3 separate regions of the Homo sapiens genome follow, and regions 2 and 3 are each linked to region 1. The links come from fine-mapping of genetic effects on gene expression. A gene starts in region 1. Each other region holds a variant in brackets. All regions are shown on one strand. Distances are from middle to middle.

Region 1 (8,185 bases):
AAAATTCTTTCCAATCAATTGTAGCAGAGGATTTAGTTTCTATTGACACCTAATTGAAAGGAAGTTCTCTCCTATTGGGAATGCACATGCAGATGCAGTGTACATGATTGTGTTTTTGTACTATACAATAAAACTATTTTTCATAGATTTACATATAAAGTCAATAGAAATAATTCTGATATCTAGCAGTAAACTGTAACAAAAAACAGTTGGGTGTGGTGGCTCATGCCTGTAATTCTTACACTTTGGGAGGCCGAGGCCAGGAGTTTGAGACCAGCCTGCACAACATAGTGAGACCCTATCTCTACCAAAAATTTCAAAATTAGCCTGGCACGGTGGTGTGTGCCTGTAGTCTCAGCTACTCAGGAGGCTGAGACAGGAGGATCACTTGAACCTGTGAATTTGAAGATGGAGTGAGCTATGATTTTGCCACTGCTCTCCAGCCTGGGCAACAGAATGAGACCCTGTCTCTAAAAAATATTTTTTTAAAAAAGTATCATTTCCAGCCGGGCACAGTGGTTCACGCCTCTAATCCCAGCACTTTGGGAGGCTGAGGGGGATGGATCACGAGGCCAGGAGTTTGAGACCAGCCTGACCAACATGGTGAAACCTCATCTCTACTAAAAATACAAAAGTTAGCTGAGCGTGGTGCCGTGCCTGTAATTCCAGCTACTCAGGAGGATCGCTTGAACTTGGGAGGCAGAGGTTGCAGTGAGCCGAGATTGCGCCATTGCACTCCAGCCTGGGCGACAGAGTGAGACTCCGTCTCAAAAAAAAAAATTCAAAATTAGTAAATCATTAAGAGGAAGAGATAAATTGCCAATAGAAATAATAAATAGGCTTTTATATTATTTAATGATCTAATCAATAAAAAAGAATGAGTTATACGAATATATTTGTAAAATATTTAAATTTATAATTAGACAGGAATGTTTATATTGACAAAGATAATATAAACCATAATACACCATTAGAAGGAGGACATAGATCACAAATTAGTTAATAGTGAATGCCATCAATTCATAGCATATTTAAGATTAGTCATTGAGAGACTGAAATGCCACCTCATCGCAGGAGGCGCCTGGCAGGGATGGAGCTGGTGCGGGCCTGGAAGTAGATGTCCTGGTTCTACTACCAACACCTGCTGGTCACAATGCTCTACATGCTGGAGCCCGAGGAGCGGAAGGTGCTCAATTCCACGCTGGTTTCCATTGATACGCAGGATACATCTTCATGACCCAGCACATCATGGCGATATTGCACTACTTTGAAATTGTACAATAACCAAGATTAGAGGTTCCTTGGGGAAGACCCACCCTACGAAGTTGGAATGACACCATCAGATGTGATAAGAAACTCTTCTAAATGTCAACCTAACCAACCTAAAATTCATGAGTAGAACAGGAAAATCACCGACTCATGTGTTGTGTTCTATATTTTTCATTTTAAAAGAAGCTCTTGCATAGTAGCTTTTGTCTATTTTAACATTGCAGCCATTTGTACTTTGATATCACTATTTTCTTTTCTTTTTTTTTTTTTTTTTTTTTTTTTTTTTTTTGAGATGGAGTTTCACTCTTGTTACGCAGGCTGGAGTGCAATGGTGCAATCTCGGCTCACTGCAACCTCTGCCTCCCAGGTTCAAGCAATTCTCCTGCCTCAGCCTCCCTAGTAGCTGGGATTACAGGCATGTGCCACCACGCCCAACTAATTTTGTATTTTTAGTAAAGATGGGGTTTCTCCATGTTGGTCAGGCTGGTATCAAACTCCCGAACTCAGGTGATCTGCCGGCCTCAGCCTCCCGAAGTGCTGGGATTACAGGCGTGAGCCACGGTGCCCAGGTGACATCACTATTTTCTTAACCTTTGTGACTGTTTCAATATTACCCCCATGAAAGCTTTTTTTTATGTACCTTTGAGTACATTATAATTGTCTTATATTTTAAAGTCATTAGTTGGGCTTTACTGTTCTTGCTATTGTATGACATATACATCTGCCTGGATATATTTTTACTCTTGACCAAAGTTTTATAAGAACAATATAAGATTTAGGGTAGGGGCATGGGGAGGAAGGATATTTTATTAAGAACTACTTAAAAGAACTACTTGCTGGGCACGGTGGCTCACACCTGTAATCCCAGCACTTTGGAAGGCTGAGGCAGGCGGATCACAAGGTTAGGAGATCGAGGCCATCCTGGCTAACACAGTGAAACCCTGTCTCTCCTAAAAATACAAAAAAATTAACTGGGTGTGGTGGCGGGCGCCCGTAGTCCCAGCTACTTGGGAGGCTGAGGCGGGAGAATGGGTGTGAACCCAGGAGGCGGAGCTTGCAGTGAGCCGAGATCATGTCACTGCACTCCAGCCTGGGTGACAGGGCGAGACTGTCTCAAAAAAAAAAAAAAAAAAAAAAAAAGAACTACATATATCAAAATATATTTTATTAAGAGCTACTTATCTGTAAGCTTGAACTCACAAGTATAGTTTTAGCTATCTAGACTCTAACAGCTTTTGCTTTAAAACTATTAAAGCATTTGTGGTTTTTTTGTTTTGTTTTTGTTTTTTTCTTTTTTGAGACCAGAGTCTTGCTCTGTTGCCCAGGCTGGATCTCGGCTGCAACCTCCACCTCCCGGGTTCAAGTGATTCTCCTGCCTCAACCTCCCAAGTAGCTGGGATTACAGGCACCCGCAACCACACTTGGCTAATTTTTGTATTTTTAGTAGAGACGGGGTTTCACCATGTTGGTCAGGCTGGTCTCGAACTCCTGACCTCGTGATCTGCCCGCCTCAGCCTCCCAAAGTGCTGGGATTACAGGCATGAGCCACCGCACCTCGCCGGGTAATGATTCTTGAGACAAGAGGTGGTTAAGTAGCATTATTATGTAATGTTTATATACCATGGAGTTTTTACAAGAAGATAAATCTATTTCCTCTGAGGGCCACTATTAACAATGTACTTCCTTAAATTTAGTTAAGTGATCGTAATACGTGCTGCATTTGCACATTGCATTAAGTTATGATGAGCTGAATTGTTACAAATTATAGCAAAAAGAAGTGTAAACTTGGCTAAAATCCTTCCATTCTTTGTATTTTTTTAAAGATTTTTATTCCTTAAATGCAAAATGACTACCTAATTTTTTTATGTAAATTCATTAAATTCAAAGAGAAAAAAAGATTAGTCATTGAACAGTAACAACAACGAAAACAAATTAGAGATACTCTGAAATCTTAGAGTTCACATATGACAAAAATTTGATGGAAATTTCCTAAAACTGTGATCCCAAGCATTTATGTGATAGTACAAATAATGAGTTATGAAGCTCACAGAAACTTTTCCAAATTCTTAATGAAAAACAAATTTGATCAACCATGCTACTGGAAAGACTAATCTATCTTTATATGTACCCTCTTGATAGAAAATACTACAAAAATCTTTGTTATATGAAGTCGTGACCCAAGAATATATAGAGCCAAAAAATGAAGGCATAATTATATAGGGGTGTCAGGGCAATTAAGTACCATGTATATATATATATTTTTAATTTTGTGATTCTTGTGGCAGTTAAATATTTTTAAAATGTGTAATTGATAGCAATTTCTTTTCTCACTTTAAATCAACACTCAAACCTAATTTTGTATAAATATTCTTGTCATCTTTTTCTTTTAAAAAGCCTCTAAAATTATGTAAGCTTCAGACCCCAAAAGGAGTAACTTATCAAGAGGAAAAGATCCTAGATTCACTTCTGCTTCTACTTATTCTACTTCTGGATTTATTAAACCATTACTCAGATTTTAAAACACACCACACACAAAGAAAAGTTTCTAAAATAAATGAGCTAACATGGATTTTTTTCATATTCTCCATCTTCTTGATAGCCCAGAGATCCTGATACTCTTTGGACTTTGGTAGTGGAATGGTAGATGTGTGTTGAGAATGGAAGGGAGTTAAGGATGGGGTTCTAGAATTCAGATGCCCTCTTAGGGTTTGAAATGTGGGGGAAAAAAAAAGAGAATCACTGCTTATCTTAGTCTGTTCGGGTAGCTGTAACAAAATACCATACCTGAGTGACTTACAAGTAATAGAAATGTTATTTCTCACATTTCTGGAGTCTGGGAAGCCCAAGATCAAGGTGCTAGCAGATTTGGTGTCTGGTAAGGGCTAACTTCCTTGTTCAAAAATGGTGCCTTCTTGCTGTGTCCTCACATAGTGGAAGAGGTGAGGGAAATTTGGGGGGCAGCTCTCATAAGGACACTGATCATTCATGATGGCCTGCCTTCACGAGACTCAGTCACCTCCCAAGGGCCCCCAGTTCCTAACAGCATCACCTATGGCGGTGAGGATTTCAACATATACATTTTAGGAGGATACAAACATTCAGATGATAGGCCAGAGCACTGACCTAGGCAATGGCATCTACAGAAAAGAGAAAAATAATTTACTTTTGACTTGAGGTGTCTTGGGTTTAAATCCCAGTCCCACCACTTAATCATTTGTGACCCTGAGCCCCGTGAGCTTTGATTTCTGCACTTGTAAAAATAGGCAGAATATTAAATACCTTTAGAGTTTTTCATGAAAACTAAATGCTACCTCTGAAGTTAAATGAAATTGTAAGAATGAAATAAATAGGGCTGTTTTAAAGAGTAAATGTGCTCAGTAATTGGTGTTCTGTAAATGTTAACTTCGTTCTGAAATATATAGAGCAGGATGTCAACTTATGGAAAGAATGTAAATATTTTTTGGTTATAAATACCAATGAATTTTTCTTACAATGCCAATGGATCTATACATACTATATGGATTATATTTAAGCTTTTTGCCTTATCTTAAAGCTAATAGCAAATAGGGCAATGATGTATATGGGCAATTTACAAAAGAAGAAACAAGAATATCTGGTAACATAGCAAGAATTTTTTAACATTTTCTTGGTCATCAAACACAATATAAACAATGAGATACCATTTTGTTTCTCACACTGGCAAAGATTAAGAAGAATGAAAATGCCCACTAGCTGGTGGTAAGGCGGGAAGGGGAAGGGTACACTCATGACATTGGATAGTTGGAGTTCAAATTGGTACAGCTGTTTTGGAGATCAATTTAAAAGTAGGCCCCCTCTCCAAAAGCAAAATAAAACTTTAAAAATGTTTACTCTGCATTTAAAGCTGAAAGTATGCCTTACTCTATGATTTAGTTATGCCTCTCCTAGTTTATATTTTTTGAAGTATAAATATGTCATCCAAAAGACATGTATAAGAATATACATAACAGCTTTATTCAGAATAGCCTAAATGTCTATCAGAAAAAAATAAATCAATAAATTGTAGTTTTTTTTTTAAAGGATACTATGAAGCAATAAAAAGAATGAATTACTGCTATACTCCACAGCATGGATGAATCTCACAGACATTATGTTGAGTGAAGGAAGCCAGAAACCAAAGAATACACACTCTATGATTCCATTTATATGAAGTTCAAGAACAGGGGATAGCTATTGACTGGGAAGAGGCATGAAAAGCATTCTGGAAAATGTTTAATCCATTGATCTGGGTGGTGGTTGTACCCATTGTCTATACACTTGTAGAATTCAAATCGCAGTACACTTGAGATTTATTCACTTTGTTGTATATATGCTATACCTCAATTTAGAAGTTTTGAGAAAACATACACTTTGACTTAGCAAGTATGTTTTCATTCTAAAGAAAAAAGTCAGAGGAGTACAAAAAAGGTTTACATACAAGAATGATCACCATAGCATTATTTATAGTAGCAAAAATCTGGAAATACAATCCAATAATAAGGAAGTAGTTAAATAAAATTATGATACATCAGATAGTAGAATGCTATAATCATTAAATCAGATAAAATAGAAGAGTCAAAAATATGGAAAGTTTTTCATAATATAATGTTCCAAAAAAAAGTAGGTTAACCAAACAGTATTTAAGATTTAATACTATATTTGCTTAAAATATACATGTCTGTCTCCCTCTCTCTCTCTCTATATATATATATGTATATTACATAATCCACATGCTTATCACACGTATCTCTGACTAATGGGATTGTAGATAATTTTCCCTTTCTTTCTCTTGTTTTAAGCAGTTTTCTATATTGGACATGTCCTGTTTTGTAATCTGCAAAAATCTGAAATAAAATGTAAAAGGGAAAAATGCTAGGTGTGGTAGTGCATGCCTATAGTCCCAGCTACTAGGGAGGCTGAGGCAGAGGCTCACTTGAGCCCAGGAGTTTGAGACCAGCCTGACTGATGCAGCAAGACACCATCTCAAAAAATAAAAAATGAAAATAAATAAATAAAAAGGAGGAGAAGGCCAGGCGCGGTGGCTCATGCCTGTAATCTCAGCACTTTGGGAGGCCAAGGTGGGTGGATCATCTGAGGTTGGGAGTTCGAGACCAGCCTGGGCAACATGGTGAAACCCTGTCTCTACTAAAAATACAAAAATTAGCCAGATGTGGTGGTGCACACCTGTAATCTCAACTACTCCAGAGGCTGAGGCAGAAGAATCACCTGAACCCAGGAGGCGAAGGTTGCAGTAAGCTGAGTTTGCACTACTGCACTCCAGGCTGGGTGACAGAGTGAAAGTCCATCTCAAAAAAAAAGGTAGGGGAGGGGATTGAAAAAGAAAGAACAAGAGTGAGCAAATCAACTCTCTATATAAGTAAGCTGTTCTGAACATTTACATATTGCATTCTAGGTATGCCCTTGATGAAGGTAGTTAACCTCTCTAAGCCTCAGGTCCTCTCTGTAAAATGGGAATAATTATTGCACCTAACTTATGGTATTGTTATCTGGATTAAATTAAATATTCTGTATGTAGTGCTTAGCAGTGTCTGACATATCATAAACACTTCATCAATATTAGCCATTACATTACTCTGGGACACTGGCTAAGACCCCTAGGTTACCAGAATTGACTTAACTGCTCTTGTCTTCTTTTCACCTTAGGTATCTACTGACCTGGTTATCGCTTCTTCCTTTAAGGAGTATTAGAACACTGCTGGGGATGGGCTGACAAACATACCAGGTATTGATGCATACAGTCCCCTGAAAGGTCTCATCTGATTAGGGACATTTATTCTGAGAACCAGGTCTCAGAATTCTCTTTTGGATGCATCAAAGTCCAACCGATTCTGAGAGCCAACTTGGTGCGTATCCCTCAGAGAAGCCTTGGGGCCCGGGTTCCACACCATTCTGTATAAAAGTGGAAAGTTAGGAGACAGCTGATTCGCTTTCTCTGTAGAATTATCTTCCCACAACTCACTGTAGAGGTCTATCACACAATGGGTTTTAGTTTCTTTTTTTCCATTGCTTTCCTTGTTTTCTATTTTCATTCTTTTCTAAAATTTTCATTTCCAGAGCTGCTTCTGGGCTCTCTTCTCCCTGCGCCAACCCACCCCCACCTCCTCCCCTTTCTCCCTCCTTCCTTTTCTTTCTCGCTCTTCCTCTTCGTCTCTCTTGAGACAGGTCTAGTGGCCTGGTTGCCATCTGCTGCCTTTTTTTTTATAAGGTTGAGATCAGATGGCATCTAATCGATCGTCATGGTCTCCATGGTTACCAGGGTGACAGAGTACTTGGGAGAGACACATTCTCGAGCCTGGGGCTGTCAGACCATTCCTGAGAGGGGAAAGGAAATAAAACCCCTTCCATCATATTTACACCTTTACATCTTTCTCAAATGCAGCAAAACACAGACCCTGTTTATGTTTTACATAGTGACCTAGTGGCTTGAGGCCAGGGAATGCAGAGTGGCTTTTTTCTATTTAAAAAAATGCACAAGGACAGAAGTAAAGGGTTTTTTGTTTTTTTGTTTTTTAGCCTCAGAACCATCCCTTCCCCTCCCTGCTCCATACAGACCATCCCTTTTATCATTTTTTTTTCTTTTCCCTTTAAATGTTTGGGAATTAATTCAGTAATTCTACTGAGTTGTTATTCTTCCAATAAATCATGGTAGTTCTAAAAGTGACAATTGACAGCTATTTGCTTTAGGGAAAGAAATAACCTTCATAAAATTACCAACACTTTCACTTTTGATTAGAATCAGTGTTAATGTTAATGTTAGTTGTTCTTTGGCCAAGCATTTGTAATATAGGAAGCCATTTTTCCCACAAAGAGCAGCTTCATATGATAAAATGTAAACAAAATGACCCTTATTCTTAATGCAAAAAGTGCTTAGGCATGA
Region 2 (8,185 bases), 46 kb after region 1:
GAGATCCTCCCACCTCAGCCTCCCAAGTAGCTGGGATTACAGGTGCATGCCACCGTGCCAGCTAATTTTTAAAAATATTTTGTACAGATGAGGTCTCATTATGTTGCCCAGGCTAGTCTTGAATGCCTGGACTCAAATAATCCTTCCATCTTGGCCTCCCAAAGTGTTGAGATTACAGGCATGAGTCATAAGGCCTGGACATCACATTGCTTATGTTTTTATTTCATGATCACAAAATAGAGCAAGGGTGCAATTTCCACAATCTACAACTTCATTCTCTTTCTCCTTGCCATCACCCCACCCATCCCATCTGGAACTGCTGCCAAGAAGGAAAAGTCTTCACTGGAATGCAAGCTCCACAAGCTAGAATTTTTGTCTGGTTTAAACACTGTATTATCTCTACAACAGTGCTCAGTACAAAGCAGGTCCTCAGCAACCATGTGTTGAATGCATTCTAATACTGATGATTTTCAGAATGGTTTAGGATTTGTGACCTCTCCTTTCTGAGCCTGAGTAGATTAAGTGTATCAAATTTGATTCCCTGTAATCTACTTTGGTTTCCTATTTTCTAAAAGCAATGGAGAGGGAGAGAGATCATTATGGCAGACCAGACGGGAGGCAGAACTAGATGATTCAGATGGACAGACAGTGTGCGGAGGCTTGCATTGTGAATTTTAGCTCCAGATTGACTGCAAGAACAAGCCAGCAATCCCAAGAGGACCCACAGACCCTCTGAAGGAATCTGACTGCTCCTGTAGGACCCAGGAGACACCCCAAATACTCAGCCACAGCAAGACCCCCTCAAGGAGAGTCTGAACTCAGACAGGCCTAGCCCTGACCCAACCTGATGGTCCTCCCCTACCCACCCTGGTAGCTGAAGACAAAGGGCATATAATCTTGGGAGATCTAGGGCCCCACCCACCATCGGTTCCTCTCCGTACTACCATAGCTGATGCTCTCTGGAAAGCACCATCTCTTGGCAGGAGGCCAACCAGCACAAAAATAGAGCATTAAACCAGCAAAGCTAAGAACCCTCACGGAGTCCATTGCACTCCCCTGCCACCTCCACTGGAACAGGTGCTGGTATCCACGGCTGAGAGACGCAGAGACAGTTTACATCACAGGACTCTGTGCAGACAACCCCCAGTACCAGCCCGGAGCCAGGTGGACTCGCTGAGTGGCTAGACCCAGAAGAGAGACAACTATCACTGCAGTTTGGCTCACAGGAAGCTACATCCACAGGAAAAAGGGGAGAGTACTACATCAAGGGAACATATTGTGGGACAAAAGAATCTGAACAACAGCCTTCAGCCCTAGACCTTCCCTCTGACAGAGCCTACCCAAATGAGAAGGAACCAGAAAACCACCTCTGGTTACAAGGCTCTTTAACACCCCCCAAAAATCATACTAGTTCACCAGCAATGAATCGAAACCAAGAAGAAATCCTTGATTTACCTGAAAAAGAATTCAGGAGGTTAGTTATTAAGCTAATTAGGGAGGCACCAGGGAAAGACAAAGCCCAATGCAAGGAAATCCGAAAAATGATACAAGAAGTGAAGGGAAAAATATTCAAGGAAAGAAATAGCTTAAAGAAAAAACAATAAGAAATTCAGGAAACATTGGAGACACTTATAGAAATGCAAAATGCTCTGGAAAGTCTCAGCAATAGAATTAACAAGTAGAAGAAGGAAATTCAGAACTCGAAGACAAGGTCTTCGAATTAACCTAACCCAACAAAGAGAAATAAAAAAGACTAAGAAAATATGAACAAAGCTTCCAAGAAGTCTGGGATTATGTTAAATAACCAAACCTAAGAATAATTGGTGTTCCTGAGGAAGAAGAGAATTCTAGAAGCTTGGAAAACATTTTGGGGGAATAATCGAGGAAAACTTCCCTCACCTTGCTAGAGACCTAGACATCCAAATACAAGAAGCACAAAGAACATCTGGGAAATTCGTCACAAACAGCTCATTGCCTAAGCACATTGTCATCAGGTTATCTAAAGTTAAGACAAAGTAAAGAATCTTAAGAGCGGTGAAAGAGAAGCACCAGGTAACTTACAAAGGAAAATCTATCAGATTAACAGCAGATTTCTCAGCAGAAACCCTATAAGATAGAAGGGACTGGGGACCTATCTTCAGCCTCCTCAAACAAAACAATTATCAGCCAAGAATTTTGTATCCAGCGAAACTAAGCATCATATATGAAGGAAAGATACAGTCTTTCTCAGACAAACAATTGGTGAGAGACGTCGATATACCAAGCCACCACTACAAGAACTGCTAAAAGAAGCTCTAAATCTTGAAACAAATCCTGGAAACACATCAAAACAGAAACTCTTTAAAGCATAAATCACACAGGACCTATAAAACCAAAAAACAAGTTAAAAGGCAAAAACATAAAACAAAAAATCCAAGGTGCACAGGCAAAAAAATAGCACAATGAATGCAACAGTACCTCACATCTCAATACTAACATTGAATGTAAATGGCCTAAATGCTCCACGTAAAAGATACAGAACCTCAGAACGGATAAGAACTCACCAGCCAACTACCTGCTGCCTTCAGGAGACTAACCTAACACATAAGGACTCATATTAGCTTAAAGTAAAGAGCAGGGGGAAAGGCATTTCATGCAAATAGACACCAAATGTGAGCAGGGTAGCTATTCTTATATCTGACAAAACAAACTTTAAAGCAACAGCAGTTAAAAGAGACAAAGAGGGACATTATATAACAGTAAAAGGCCTTGTGCAAGAGGAAAATATCACAATCCAAAACATATATGTGCCTATCACTGGAGCTCCCAAATTTATAAAACAATTACTAATAGACCTAAGAAATGAGATAGACAGCAACAAAATAATAGTGGGGGACTTCAATACTCCACTGACAGCACTTGACAGGTCATCAAGAAAGACAGTCAACAAAGAAACAATGGATTTAAACGATACCTTGGAACAAATGGACTTAATAGATATATACAGAACATTTCATCCAACAACCACAGAATACACATTCTATTCAATAACTCATGGAACTTTCTCCAAGATAGACCATATGATAGGCCATAAGAGTCTCAATACATTTAAGAAAATTGAAATTATATCAAACACTCTCTCAGACCACAGTGGAATAAAACTGGAAATCAACTCCAAAAGGAACCTTCGAAACCATACAAATACATGGAAATTAAATAACCTGTTTCTGAATGAGCATTGGGTCAAAAACAAAATCAAGATGGAAATTAAAAAATTATTCAAACTGAACGACAGTAATGACACAACCTATCAAAACCTCTGGGATATAGCAAAGGTGGTGCTAAGAGGGAAGATCATAACACCAAATGCCTGTATCAAAAAGACTGAAAGAGACTAACTGACATTCTAAGGTCACACCTCAAGGAACTAAAGAAACAAGAACAAACCATACCCAAACCCAGCAGAAGAAAACAAAAATAACCAAGATCAGAGCAGAACTAAATGAAACTGAAACACACAAAAAAATACAAAAGGTAAATGAAACAAAAAGCTGGTTCTTTGAAAAGATAAATAAAATTAATAGACCATTAGCAAGATTAACCAAGAAAAGAAGAAAGAAAATCCAAACAACCTCATTAAGAAACGATACAGGAGATATTATAACTGATACCACTGAAATACAAAAGATCATTCAAGGCTACTATGAACACCTTTACGTACATAAACTAAAAAACCTAGAAGAGATGGATAAATTCCTGGAAAAATACAACCCTCCTAGCTTAAATCAGGAAAAATTAGATGCTCTGAACAGACCAATAACAAGCAGTGAGACTGATATGGTAATTAAAAAATTACTGTTCGTGACTACCCTGACCAACATGGTGAAACCCCATCTCTACTAAAAATACAAATTTAGCTGGGTGTGGTGGTGCATGCCTGTAATCCCAGCTACTTGGGAGGCTGAGGCAGGAGAATCGCTTGAACCCAGGAGATGGAGGTTGCAGTGAGCTGAGTTCGTACCATTGCACTCTAGCCTGGGCAACAAGAGCGAAACTCTGTCTCAAAAAAAAAAAAAAAATTTACCAACAAAAAGTGCCTGGGACCAGATGGATTCACAGCAGAATTCTACCAGACATTCAAGGAAGAATCGGTACCAATCCTTTTGACACTATTCCACAAGATAGAGAAAGAAGGAACCCTCCCTAATTCATTCTATGAAGCTAGCGTTACCCTAATACCAAAACCAGAAAGGACAAAACCAAAAAAGAAAACTACAGACCAATATCCTTGATGAACATAGATGCTAAAATCCTTAACAAAATACTAGCTAACCAAATCCAGCAACATATCAAAAAGATAATCCACCACGATTGAGTGGGTTTCATACCAGGGATGCAGT[G/GATGGTTTAATAT]ATGCAAGTCAGTAAATGTGGTACACCACATAAACAGAATTAAAACAAAAATCACACTATCATCTCAATAGATGCAGAAAAAGCATTTGACAAAATCCAGCATCCCTTTATGATTAAAACTCTCGGCAAAACTGGCATATGAGGTACATACCTCAATGTAATAAAAGCCATCTACGACAAGCCCACAGCCAACATAATACCAAATGAGGAAAAGTTGAAAGCATTTTCTCTGAGAACTGGAACAAGGTAACAATGCCCACTCTCACCACTCCTCTACAACATAGTACTGGAAGTCCTAGCCAGAGCAGTCAGACAAGAGAAAGAAATAAGGGGCATCCAAATCAGTAAAGAGGAAGTCAGACTGTCACTGTTTGCTGACCATATGCTCATTTACCTCGAAAACCCTAAAGGTTCCTCCAGAAAGCTCCTAGAACTAGTAAAATAACTCAGCAATGTTTCCGGATACAAGATTAATGTACACAAATCAGTAGCTCTTCTATACAACAGCGACCAAGCAGAGAATCAAATCAAGAACTCAGCCCCTTTTTCAAGGGCTGCCAAAAAAATAAAATACCTAGGAATATACCTAACCAAGGAGTCAAAAAACCTCTACAAGGAAAACTACAAAACACTGCTGAAAGAGATCATAGATGATACAAACAAATGTAAACACATCCCATGCTCATGGATAGGTAGAATCAATATTGTGAAAATGACCACACTGCCAAAAGCAATCTACAAATTCATTGCAATCCCCATCAAAATACCACCATCATTCTTCACAAAATTAGAAAAAACAATTCTAAAATTCATATGGAGCCAAACAAGAGCCCACATACCCAAAGCAAGTCTAAGCAAAAAGAACAAATCTGGAGGCATCACACCACCTGATTACAAACTATACTGTAGGGCCATAGTCAACAAGCCAGCATGGTACTGGTATAAAAATGGTACATAGATCAATGGAACAGGATAGAGAACCCAGAAATAAACCCAAATACTTACAGCAAACTGGTCTTCAAGAAAGCAAACAAAATCATAAAGTGGGGAAAGGACACCCTTTTCAACAAATGGTGCTGGGATAATTGGCTAGCCACATGTAGGGGAATGAAACTGGATCCTCATCTCTCACCTTACATAAAAATCAACTCAAGATGGATTAAGGACTTAAATCTAATGCCTGAAACTATAAAAATTCTAGAAGACAACATTGGAAAAACCATTCTAGACATTCTTAGGCAAGGATTTCATGACCAAGAATCCAAAAGCAAATGCAATAAAAACAAAGATAAATAGTTGAGACTTAATTAAACTAAAGAGCTTTTGCACAGCAAAAGGAACAGTCAGCAGAGTAGACAGACAATCCACAGAGTGGGACAAAATCTTCACAATCTGTACATCTGACAAAGGACTAATATCCAGAATCTACAATGAACTCAAACAAATCAGTAAGAAAACACAATCGCATCAAAAAGTGGGCTAAGGACATGAATAGACAATTCTCAAAATAAGGACAAACAAATGGCCCAACAAACAAGAAAAAATGCTCCCCAGCACTTTGGGAGGCCAAGGTGGGCGGATCATGAGGTCAGGAGATCGAGACCATCCTGGCTAACATGGTGAAACCCCGTCTCTACTAAAAATGCAAAAAAATTAGCTGGGCGTCGTGGTGGGCACCTGTAGTTCCAGCTACTCGGGAGGCTGAGGCAGGAGAATGGCGTGAACCTGGGAGGCGGAGCTTGCAGTGAGCGGAGATCGCGCCACTGCACTCCAGCCTGGGCAACAGAGCAGCAGATCAAGACCCCGTCTCAAAAAAAATAAAAAAAAAATAAAAAATAAATGCTCAATATCACTAATGATCAGGGAAATGCAAATCAAAACCGCAATGTGATACCACCTTACTCCTGCAAGAATGGCCATAATAAAAAAATCAAAAAACAGTAGATGTTGGCGTGGGTGCAGTGATCAGGGAACACTTCTACACTGCTAGTGGGGATGTAAACTAGTACATCCCCACCTACATGTGGAAAACAGTGTGGAGATTCCTTAAAGAACTAAAAGTAGAACTACCATTTGATCCAGCAATCCCACTACTGGGTATCTACCCAGTGGAAACGGAGTCATTATACGACAAAGATACTTGCACAGGCAGGTTTATAGCAGCACAATTCACAATTGCAAAATCGTGGAACCAATGCAAATGCCCATCAATCAATGAGTGAATAAAGAAATTGTGGTGTATATATTTGATGTAATACTACTCAGCCATAAAAAGAAATGAATTAACGGCATTTGTAGTGACCTGGATGAGATTGGAGACTACTATTCTAAGTGAAGCAACTCAGAAATGGAAAACCAAACATCATATGTTTTCACTGACATGTGGGAGCTAAGCTATGAGGATGCAAAGGCATAAGAATGATACAATGGACTTTAGGGACTTGGGGTGAAAGAGTGGGAGGGGGTCGAGGGATAGAAGACTACAAATGGGGTGCAGTGTATACTGCCTGGGTGATGGGTGAACCAAAATCTCACAAATCACCACTGAAGAACTTACTCACGTAACCAAATATCACTTGTACCCCAATACCTTATGGAAAAATAAAAAACAGAAATAAAAATAAATAAAAATGGAAAAAAATAAAAGCAATGCAAATTGCTGGTTTTAATTTAAAAAGCCCAGTTGGCTTTGAGACTCTTGATATACGTCATTGTCATCCTTATGCAATACTCAACCAATAGAAGTGGTTCTGGAAGTTCCAATAAGCATCTATATTTTAATCCTGAGAAACTGTGAGGCATTTGTGCCTGCATAGGCCAAGTTTTTCATCCATTCTACTGAATCACTCTATTTATTGACTCCATGAATACAGCAAATTCATCATGTCACTCAGTATTCCCTAGTTATATAACTCTTCCATGTAAGAAATAGCATCAGCAACAGCAACAAAAACAGTAACATCACTGACATTTTCATTAAATATGAGCACTCAGGAATGAACCTGTTGAATTAAATGAATGCACTATTATCTAAGCTTAGTGCCTCTTGGACAACATGTAAAATTGGACTCTTAGCAAGCAATACACTCTACTATCTAAATTCAAATATAATTAACGGTTAGTTTTCCTCATATTTCATATCTCTCTACCTTAACTTCCTGAATTTTACACCTAACTCTATTTATACTCTTTTGTTTTATTGCTAAGGTTTGAGACATGGAAATGGCCAATTTCTCCATATTAAATGTAGATCTTTTTAAATATGTTTTTCACCCACTTAACAATCTTTTTGAATGACCGTTGTTGGTTTGGAAGACCAGATGATGTCCACCTCACTGCTAACTCCATTTTCTTTTTACTTCTCTTCCCTTTGTCTTTTGCTCCTTCTTCCCAGGCATCTACCCACAAAATCTCCTGACTCCCTTGTTATTTGTTTCTTCCCGTCATATTTGCTATGTTTATATCAACTTAATGTTGACAGAGGTATATGTACTTTAGATATCTTTATTAAGGTATGGTGCTGTGACATTCTAACTATAAAGTGTTATCTCAGCATGAATGAAGGCTTATGAAGAGGGAGAAATGTTCTTCAGATTTTTCTTTAAAAGGCAGTGCATTTAGGCTGGGATAGAACACTGATTTCCAAGGATTTCTAACAATATGTGACATCCAGAAAGTCTATTATCTTACACACCAAATTTCAGTAGCCATCTGGGACGCCAAATTACCAATGAAACAAAAGACACGACACAGTAGTAAGGTGCACAGGTTTTGTAATTAAAAAAAAGGAACATGATCATGATTGA
Region 3 (8,185 bases), 42 kb before region 1:
CCTTTTCTTTGGCTTGTACCAATGAGAGCCACCATGGAGAAACTCTGGGTTCAAGTAACCACACCTTCCTCTTTCCCCTTCAGACCAAGGAGTTGTAACAACTCTGTGTGGTTGCCACTAAAGCTGCTACATTATCCAGCCTCAGTTTCCCCTAATCATCTCTACACTTTGTAAGTAAGATCTTTAAAAACTGCTTCTCAAATTGCCCTTACGTATACCAGCTGTTTCTTCCATGACTCTAACATACAGTTATCTATATGGAGGATGGTGAGTGCAAGGGAAAAGAAGGAAGTGTTTGGGAGGAAGTTTCTGGTGATTTTCTATAACAAGGTGAAAAGGAAACAAGACAGGAGTTGTGCCAGTTGTTGGCAGGAGCACTGATATCTGTGGCTACAGAAGACTGCACGGCCATGAATGTATTTGGATGATGAAATGAAGCAGAACTTTTAATTCAGCTTGTTAAATACAACCCAAGCAGTGAAGCTTGTCACTGCAGGGCAGGAGTTCAAAAGAAACTGATGAATCCTAGGGTTTTGGAATAGCACCGGCTGTCAGAAAGGTGCACACCTATCTTAGTATCCATTTGACTGAGGATGGACTCAGCTAATGAATGAGGAGGGAGAAGGGAGGCGTGAAAGTATGGGACTGTCTATACTAGCGCTTCTCAACTAGGGGCAGTTGTACCCCTCATGAAACATGTGGCAATGTCTGGAGATGTTTTTGGTTATCATTGTTACCAGAAAGGGGTCCTGATCCAGACCCCAAGAGAGGGTTATTGGACCTTGCACAAGAAAGAATTCAGGGCGAGTCCACAGAGTGAAGTGAAAGCAAGGTTTATTAAGAAAGTAAAGGAATAAAAGAATGGCAGACTGGGCGCTGTGACTCACGCCTGTAATCCCAGCACTTTGGGAGGCCGAGGCGGGTGGATCACCTGAGGTCAGGAGTTCGAGACCAGCCTGGCCAACATGGTGAAACCCTGTCTCTACTAAAAATATGAAAATTAGCTGGCCGCAGTGGCGCACGCCTGTAATCCCAGCTACTTGGGAGGCCGAGGCAGGAGAATCGCTTTAACCCAGGAAACAGAGGTTGCGGTGAGCCAAGATCACACCACTGCACTCCAGCCTGGGCAACAGAGCAAGACTCCATTTCAAAAAAAAAAAAAATGGCTACTCTATAGGCAGAGCAGCAGCATGGGCTGCTCAACTGAGTATACTTACAGTTTCTTCTTTATTGTATGCTAAGCAAGGGGTGGATTATTCATGAGTTTTTCAGGAAAGTGGTGGGCAATTCCCAGAACTGGGGGTTCCTCCCCTTTTTAGACCATATAGGGTAACTCTGGATGTTGCCATGATGTTTGTAAACTGTCATGGTGCTGATGAAAGTGTCTTTTAACATGCTAATGTATTAGAATTAGCATATAATGAGCAATGAGAATGACCAGCAGTCACTTTCTTTGGGATCTTGGTTTTGGTGAGTTTTTGCCAGCTTCTTTCTTGCTGTTTTTATCAGCAAGGTCCTTATGACCTGTATTTTGTGCCAACCTCCTATCTCATGCTGTGACTAAGAATGCCTAACCTACTGGGAATGCACCCCAGCAGGTCTCAGCCTTATTTCACCCAGCCCCTATTCAAGATGGAGTCGCTCTGGCTCAAGCACCTCTGACATCATGACTGGTTGGAGATGAAGATGCTTCTGGCATCTAGTGGGTTGACGCTAGGAAGGCTGATAAACGTCCTAAAATGCAGAAGACAGCCCCAAAGAAACTTTCAGCCCCAAATGTCAATAGTGTGGAAGTTGAGAAGCCCTGATCTACGGCCTGGCCAGCCAAGTGGAAGCTGTGGACCATGTGTCTATTATAATGGTTAAGAATGCAGTCTCCGGAATTAGCTAGACCTGAGTTTGAATTCCAGCTAGTGATGTTGGGCAAGTAATCTAACCTCTCTAGGCTTCAGTTTCGTGTTCTTTTCAGCTTTCAAGCAAGATCTATTGAACACCCCCTTATGCCACGTCACACTATGTGGTCAGCAAGTACAAATGATCACAGTAACATTTAAGTTAGCTAGAACTCCCAGGAAACAGGACATTCTGAGTCATGGACATTTCCGGTTGAAAACTAGTGTTCATTCCTGTCTCATAATATATGTAGAAACAATTTTCTTGCTCCCATTCTGTTATTGTTACATATTATGGCTTTTATAAAATTTACTGGATCGTGGGAAACAATTTTCATGTTCCCAGTAGCTGAGGCAGCCACTATATACCATTCAACAGCCAGAGCCTTTTTGTGAGAGTGATTTCTTTGTGTTTTTTAATTTATTATTTTAAAATTAATATTATTTTAATAGAAAGATAATTGTATATGTTTATGGGGTATAATGTGATGTTTTGATATACAATGTGGGATGATTAAATCAATCTAATTAACATATCTATTACCTGACATTATTTTTCATGGTGAGACATTTGAAATTTATTCTCTTAGCAAGTTTGAAATAAACAATATATTGTTAGCTGTAGTCACCCTGCTCTGCAATAGATCTCACAGACTTATGGTCTCTGACGTTAACCAGTATCCCCCTATTTCCTCCCAGCTTCAGTTTCTTATCTTTAAAATGGGGAAAATAACGAGACCCACCTCACAGAGCTGTGGAGCTTATATACATATAAATTGTTTAGCACAGTGCTTGGCACATAGTTAAGTTCTCAAGAAATGGTTACTCCTATTATGGTAATTGTTACCTTCCCAGTACAGATTATAATTCCATTAAAACTAATTTATGAGGCAAGAGGAAAGTTTCCGTGGAGCTGATAGGTTTTGTAATTAGGTAGTTAGATGTGTGTGTTCACTTCACAGAAATTCACTGAGCTTGCAGGATGCAGTGGCTCGTGCCTGTAACTCCAGCACTCTGGGAGGTCAAGATGGGTGAATCGCTTGAGGCCAGGAGTTGGAGATCAGCCTGGGCAACATGGTGAAACCCATCTCTACAAAAAATATACAAAAATTTGACAGGCAAGGTGGAGCGCACCTGTAGTCTCAGCTACTCAGGAGGTTGAGGTGGGAGGATCACTTGAGCTCGGGAGGTTGAAGCTGAAGTGAGTCAAGATGGCATCACTGCACTCCAGCCTGGATGACAGTGAGACCTTGTTGCAAAAATAAATAAATAACTAAGTAAATAGATTGAGCTCTAGCTCTACACTTATGATTTCGGACCTTTTCTGTACATATATTATAACTTTT[A/T]AAAAGCTTACTTAAAATGATTAATAGGAGTCTCATTCTGCCTGCCTTCAAAAAGCCCCATGATATTTAATAAATTCTTGACTTTCCTTGCCAGTGATTCAATCTCTCAGAAGTTGAAAGATGCAATGAAGGACAGTTACTCTCCACTGACCAGTTTGCTCTCCACTGACCAAAACTGAGGAACTGGGAAGAAAGATGAGAAATTGACAGCAATGTCATATACAAGGGACCATCATATTATAGTATAGGAAGAAAATGTTTGTTGAAGTGCTAACATCTAATTTAGGTTTTAAGAAAATAGAATTCAAAAAAGTTTGGAGAAAAAATAGCTGTGACCATGTAGTCTGATTTCAAAAAGACCGAGTGACTTAAGAGGAATGGCAGGTTCTAAACAGAAATTCTAACTCTTTAGTCATAAATTATCGTGATAAGAGAGAAAAATGGGAAACAGTGTGTCCATAGAGGGAGCTCCCAGATGATCTCAGGTATTTAAAGGATCTGCGTAGGTGAATGAAGAACACTGAGCTGAGGGCTAACACAGAATGACACAAGTAGGTATTATTCCTGCATGGTAAAGGTCAGAACTAGGCAAGGTTTTGTGAAGCATGCCAACGACAATTGAAAAAGCTTTTTAGCTATGCTTGGTGCTGGAAAGACAAGGAAGCATATGGCCATTTGTCAATTTAGTGTTAACAGCAGCACAAAGAAGGCAGAACAATTCATTTCATAATTTTTTTTAATTTTCTCTATCAAGGAAAATGATTTTCTAATGATAATGGATACCATCATATTGGCTAGGAAAGAATTTGAGCACTAACTAGTTGAATAAATACTAAGAGCCCCCTCCTTGTTTTTCATGGGCTCAAATCTGCTGCTGGATGAAAAATGTGCAGATGTGATTGGGAAACCCTTACCTCAACCTTGGGTGAAAGGGCACAAGAACCTGCCTGAAAGCTGAGAGAAGGACCAGTGTGCTTATTTTTAACGTGGGGAAATACATATTTCAGAATCTGCCACCCTGTGAGCTTGATGCTGATACCCGGGAAAATTCTGGGTTGATTTAATTAAATTAGGTAGTTTATGAATACTTGATGGAATAAAGGAGTGAAAAGCCCTGCACTCAGCCTGATTTTCCAGGGAAAAATGTTATACTAATAATATACTGAGCACCACCTGCCAGCGTGTCTCCAAGCACTCCATTTCTTCAGGCCTCAAAGAATCCTGTGAGGCAGGTCCTGAGACAGTCAAATCCTAGGCAGATAAAAAGGAGTCCCAGAGAATCTCTGACCGGCTTCAAAAGTGTTTACATCAGATGCTTTTGTGCAGATGAGGGCTAGATGCCCAGGGCTTGTCTGTGCATGCACACAGCTGACTAGACCCTGGCGTGTGCACTGGGGGAAGTGGGTGGAGCCACAGGAAATTCACACATTATGCATGGGAAGAGCCTGCTCTCTTCAGCTCCTGCGGTGACCTGGGAATCAATCAGTGAGGTAGAGGGCCTGTTAGCAGGGGTCCATCACACATTGCTGAGATCTTTTTTTTCTTTTCTTTTTTTTTTTGAGATGGAGTTTCGTTCTTGTCACCCGGGCTGGAGTGCAGTGGCGTGATCTCAGCTCACTGCAACCTCCGCCTCCTGGGTTCAAGCGATTCTCCTGCCTCAGCCTCCCAAGTAGCTGGGATTACAGGCGCCTGCCACCATGCCCGGCTAATTTTTTGTATTTTTAGTAGAGACGGGGTTTCGCCATGTTGGGCAGGCTAGTCTCGAATTCCTTACCTCAAGTGATCCGCCCGTCTAGGCCTCCCAAAGTGTTGGGGTTACAGTCGTGAGCCACTGCGCCTGGCCTCTTTTTCATTTTTCACCTTTCACCCAATACAATCCTGCTCTACACACCCTTTGATGTGTCCACGTGCCTAAGTTTTCCTGGTTGTGTGACAAGAAGCCAGGTTTTAGCTGAACTAAGGAGTAAAATTCAGCAACAGTACTACCATTATCTCTATTTCCAGATGAGAAAACAGAGGCACAGGGGAGTCAATGAACTTGCCAGAGGTCACACAGCCAGTGTAACAGAGCCAGAGCTCAACAGGCAGGCTGGCTCTGGAGCTTTTGCTCTTCCCCTTGACTCTGAGAGGCTTTCAGCAAAGCAATGGATAATGAGCATCAACATGCCTTTCATGACAACAGGAGGAAATGCAGTCTGCACAGGCTGCAGTGAGGCACAGTAGCACTCGTTTAAGCAGTCGCAGGAAGAGAAGTTCAAGTGAAGCCTCCCTGCCATTTTGGAAGTCCTGGAACAATACCTTAGGCTGCAGCATTAAATACTGGTGATATGTGAGCACTTTTGACCTATAAAAATGGTAGTTTTACGTGTTCCAGCCTAATACTTTATCCTCTCTTGCCTAATACTTTTTCATATTCTTTTACCTGGACGTGTGTAGTGCTTGTTGGACCATTTTCAGATGTCACATAGCTGGGATTGATACCTAGTGAGATAATTGCAATACAGAAAGGTCATTACAGTTTGGAGAACGGGGATGAAACTATCACAAAATGAATTTTAACAGAAATAAATGTGAAGCTCTGAATTCAGTTTTAAACATTTAGTCTCCACAAGGATAGGGTGAGAGAGACCTGATTAACCAAAGTTCCTGTGAAAGCACAGGATTTTTGGTCTCCACCAGCTTTCTTGAGTCCCCAGGTGCTGAGGTAATTGGGGCGGTCAAGGAATACGGGGCTGGATAAAACAACCTCACGTTGATCATTTAACTCTGTCTAGGGGACCAAAGTGCCAGGGTTGGGGGCAGTCCTCTGACATGCACAAGGTGTTAAAAGAAGGGTGTTTATTGTACACCGAGCAGTGGAGAATTTGGAATTTTTAGCCTGAAGAGGCTTGGGGAAAACTGATAGCAGCCTTCAAGTATTTAAAGGGATACTATTCATAAATCAAGAAACATTTACTGAGTACCTGCCACATGAAAGGAGGAGCACTGTGTGCTGTGAGAGACTGAAAAATGAGAAAGAATGCTATCTGACCTCAAGAAGTTTATTAATAGAGAGGGGTTGTCTGACCCAGAGACAACTAATACAGGGGGTAAATCAACAGTTGCTATAATAGAGACACAAATAAATCATAATCATTAAGTGTTCTTTCCTTTCTTAACAGATATTTGTAGTACAAAGAACTTCAAATATCTGAAAGAAGTAGAGAGAGGTATAAGAGGTGTTAGGAGACTTAAGGAGAAACAGGCTTCTCTGACCTACAGGGAAATTGTTGCCTGTTTAGTCCAGTCTATTTTCCATTAAACATTCTGTCTTGCTCAGCTTCACGAATAAAAACAGGGAAATAAAGCAACTTTCTTTTAATTGTATTTACTACAAGACTTATTTGATGGTAATTTCCTTCAGTACAATTATTTATGGATTTACTTATATTCTGCTTTTCAGCTTCTTTTACTTTTATTTTTTGAGATGGGGTCCCGTTATGTTGCCCAGGCTGGTCTCGAACTCCTGGGCTCAGCAATCCTCCCACCTAGGCCTCCCAAAGTGCTGGGATTACAGGCATGAGCCACTGCGCCTGACCTCAGCCTCTTTTTTTCGGCCTGCATACACATGCACTTACATGCACACACACACACATATGCACACACACACACAGACACACACACACACACACAAGCACAGTGATTCCAACAAGGAGATCTAGTTTTTACTTAAACAAAGGAAGGAGTCACCTCTATAGTGTGATTTGAGGGTTGAGGTACCAAGGAAAGCAGCTACCCCTATCCCAATCTTATAAAACCACTTCTTTTGTCATAGGATCCAACGCTACCATTCATGAATCATCCCTTGAGTGCCCCCTCCTGGCTCCCCAGAGAGTCCTGGGGGGAGTTCCTCTTTGAAGTCTTCACAACCAATTTAAGTTGTGAGCTGCCAGTCTTCTTTGTGACAGCCAAGTGTACCATGAGAGTACCACAGGAGTGTATGGTGGGGGTTGTATTTCAGGAAATAGAAAGGATGAAATATTAGGATCAACTAAGCAGATTTCACCAACCTTACATTTTTTTCCCTGCAGTTAACTCATCATTATCTTCATTCATGTTCTCAAGACAATCCTTAATAAAGTATTAAACAATCATTTGGGGCCGGGCACAGTGGCTCACGCCTGTAATCTCAGCACTTTGGGAGGCCGAGGCGGGCGGATCATGAGGTCAGAATTTCGAGACCAGCCTGGCCAGCATGGTGAAACCCCGCCTCTACCAAAAATACAAAAAATTAGCCAGGCATGGTGGCACACACCTGTAGTCCCAGCTACTCGGGAGGCTGAGGGAGGAGAATTGCCTGAACCCGGCAAGCAGAGGTTGCCGTGAGCTGAGATCATGCCACTGCACTCCAGCCTGGGCAACAGAGCAAGACTCCATCTCAAAAACAAACAAACAAACAACAAAAAAAAAAAACAGAACCAAAAAAAATCATTTGGATTTGAGCTATATTCCATGTTAGTGTTTCCCTAGTATTTACTAGTGGTTCTAAAAGAAAGTGTGCATTCCTTGGGCTCAACAGATGGTAGAAAGAGATGGCTGGAAAGTTGATGAGAAACCAAAAACGAGCATTTTGCATGGGAAAATCCAAAATCTCCACAAGGACCTAGTCTGATTGCTTATGATAAAGTTCTAGCACTGGTCCACCAATGAATCACAATGAAAATTTCCAGTAATTTTGAATTTGCCAGGCTATTGCCTACTGATTTTATAACATCTGTTAACATGTTCAGGTACTGGGGCATGATGAGTGTCTATTTATTCATAAGACTGTTGTGGGGGTGCCTACATGCTTTAGTCAAATCATGTAATAGTTCTATGCCTCACAACTGAAAACCAAATAGTTCCTGTTTTTCTTTTGCATACAGTCTCAAGTGTTGATGGAGTAGCACTGTGATGTTCATTAAGGTT

Which allele goes with the higher level. Positions count from the first base shown, and alleles are read on the strand shown. Sizes are in standard deviations (SD) of each study's normalised expression.
For the expression in cerebellar hemisphere of the gene that starts at base 3,961 in region 1, G is the low allele of the variant in region 2 and GATGGTTTAATAT is the other (small effect, 0.40 SD a copy in GTEx).
For the expression in cerebellum of the gene that starts at base 3,961 in region 1, allele A in region 3 goes with a lower level than allele T (moderate effect, 0.54 SD a copy in GTEx).

What was found. PIP is the estimated chance that this variant, and not a neighbour inherited with it, causes the effect.
Region 2: its variant is the best candidate, but not a certain one, in a credible set for the expression of LINC01649 in cerebellar hemisphere (GTEx, PIP 0.50).
Region 3: its variant is the best candidate, but not a certain one, in a credible set for the expression of LINC01649 in cerebellum (GTEx, PIP 0.75).

The regions. Positions count from the first base shown.
Region 1 is chr1:115,915,416-115,923,600 of GRCh38, forward strand. LINC01649 (long intergenic non-protein coding RNA 1649) reads left to right here and starts at 3,961. Exons shown (of 3, transcript NR_125969.1): 1 at 3,961-4,144; 2 at 6,952-7,030. It overlaps LOC101928977 (a long non-coding RNA gene), which reads right to left. Exons shown (of 5, transcript NR_125970.1): 5 at 7,158-7,197. It also overlaps the pseudogene LOC101928952.
Region 2 is chr1:115,961,115-115,969,299 of GRCh38, forward strand. All of the region lies in intron 1 of LOC101928977 (a long non-coding RNA gene), which reads right to left. Among named protein-coding and RNA genes, the nearest start is that of SLC22A15, 11 kb to the right of the region's middle. The variant G/GATGGTTTAATAT (reference allele first, on the strand shown) is at 4,380.
Region 3 is chr1:115,873,072-115,881,256 of GRCh38, forward strand. No RefSeq gene overlaps it. Among named protein-coding and RNA genes, the nearest start is that of NHLH2, 36 kb to the left of the region's middle. RefSeq lists an enhancer at 6,830-7,369. The variant A/T (reference allele first, on the strand shown) is at 3,239.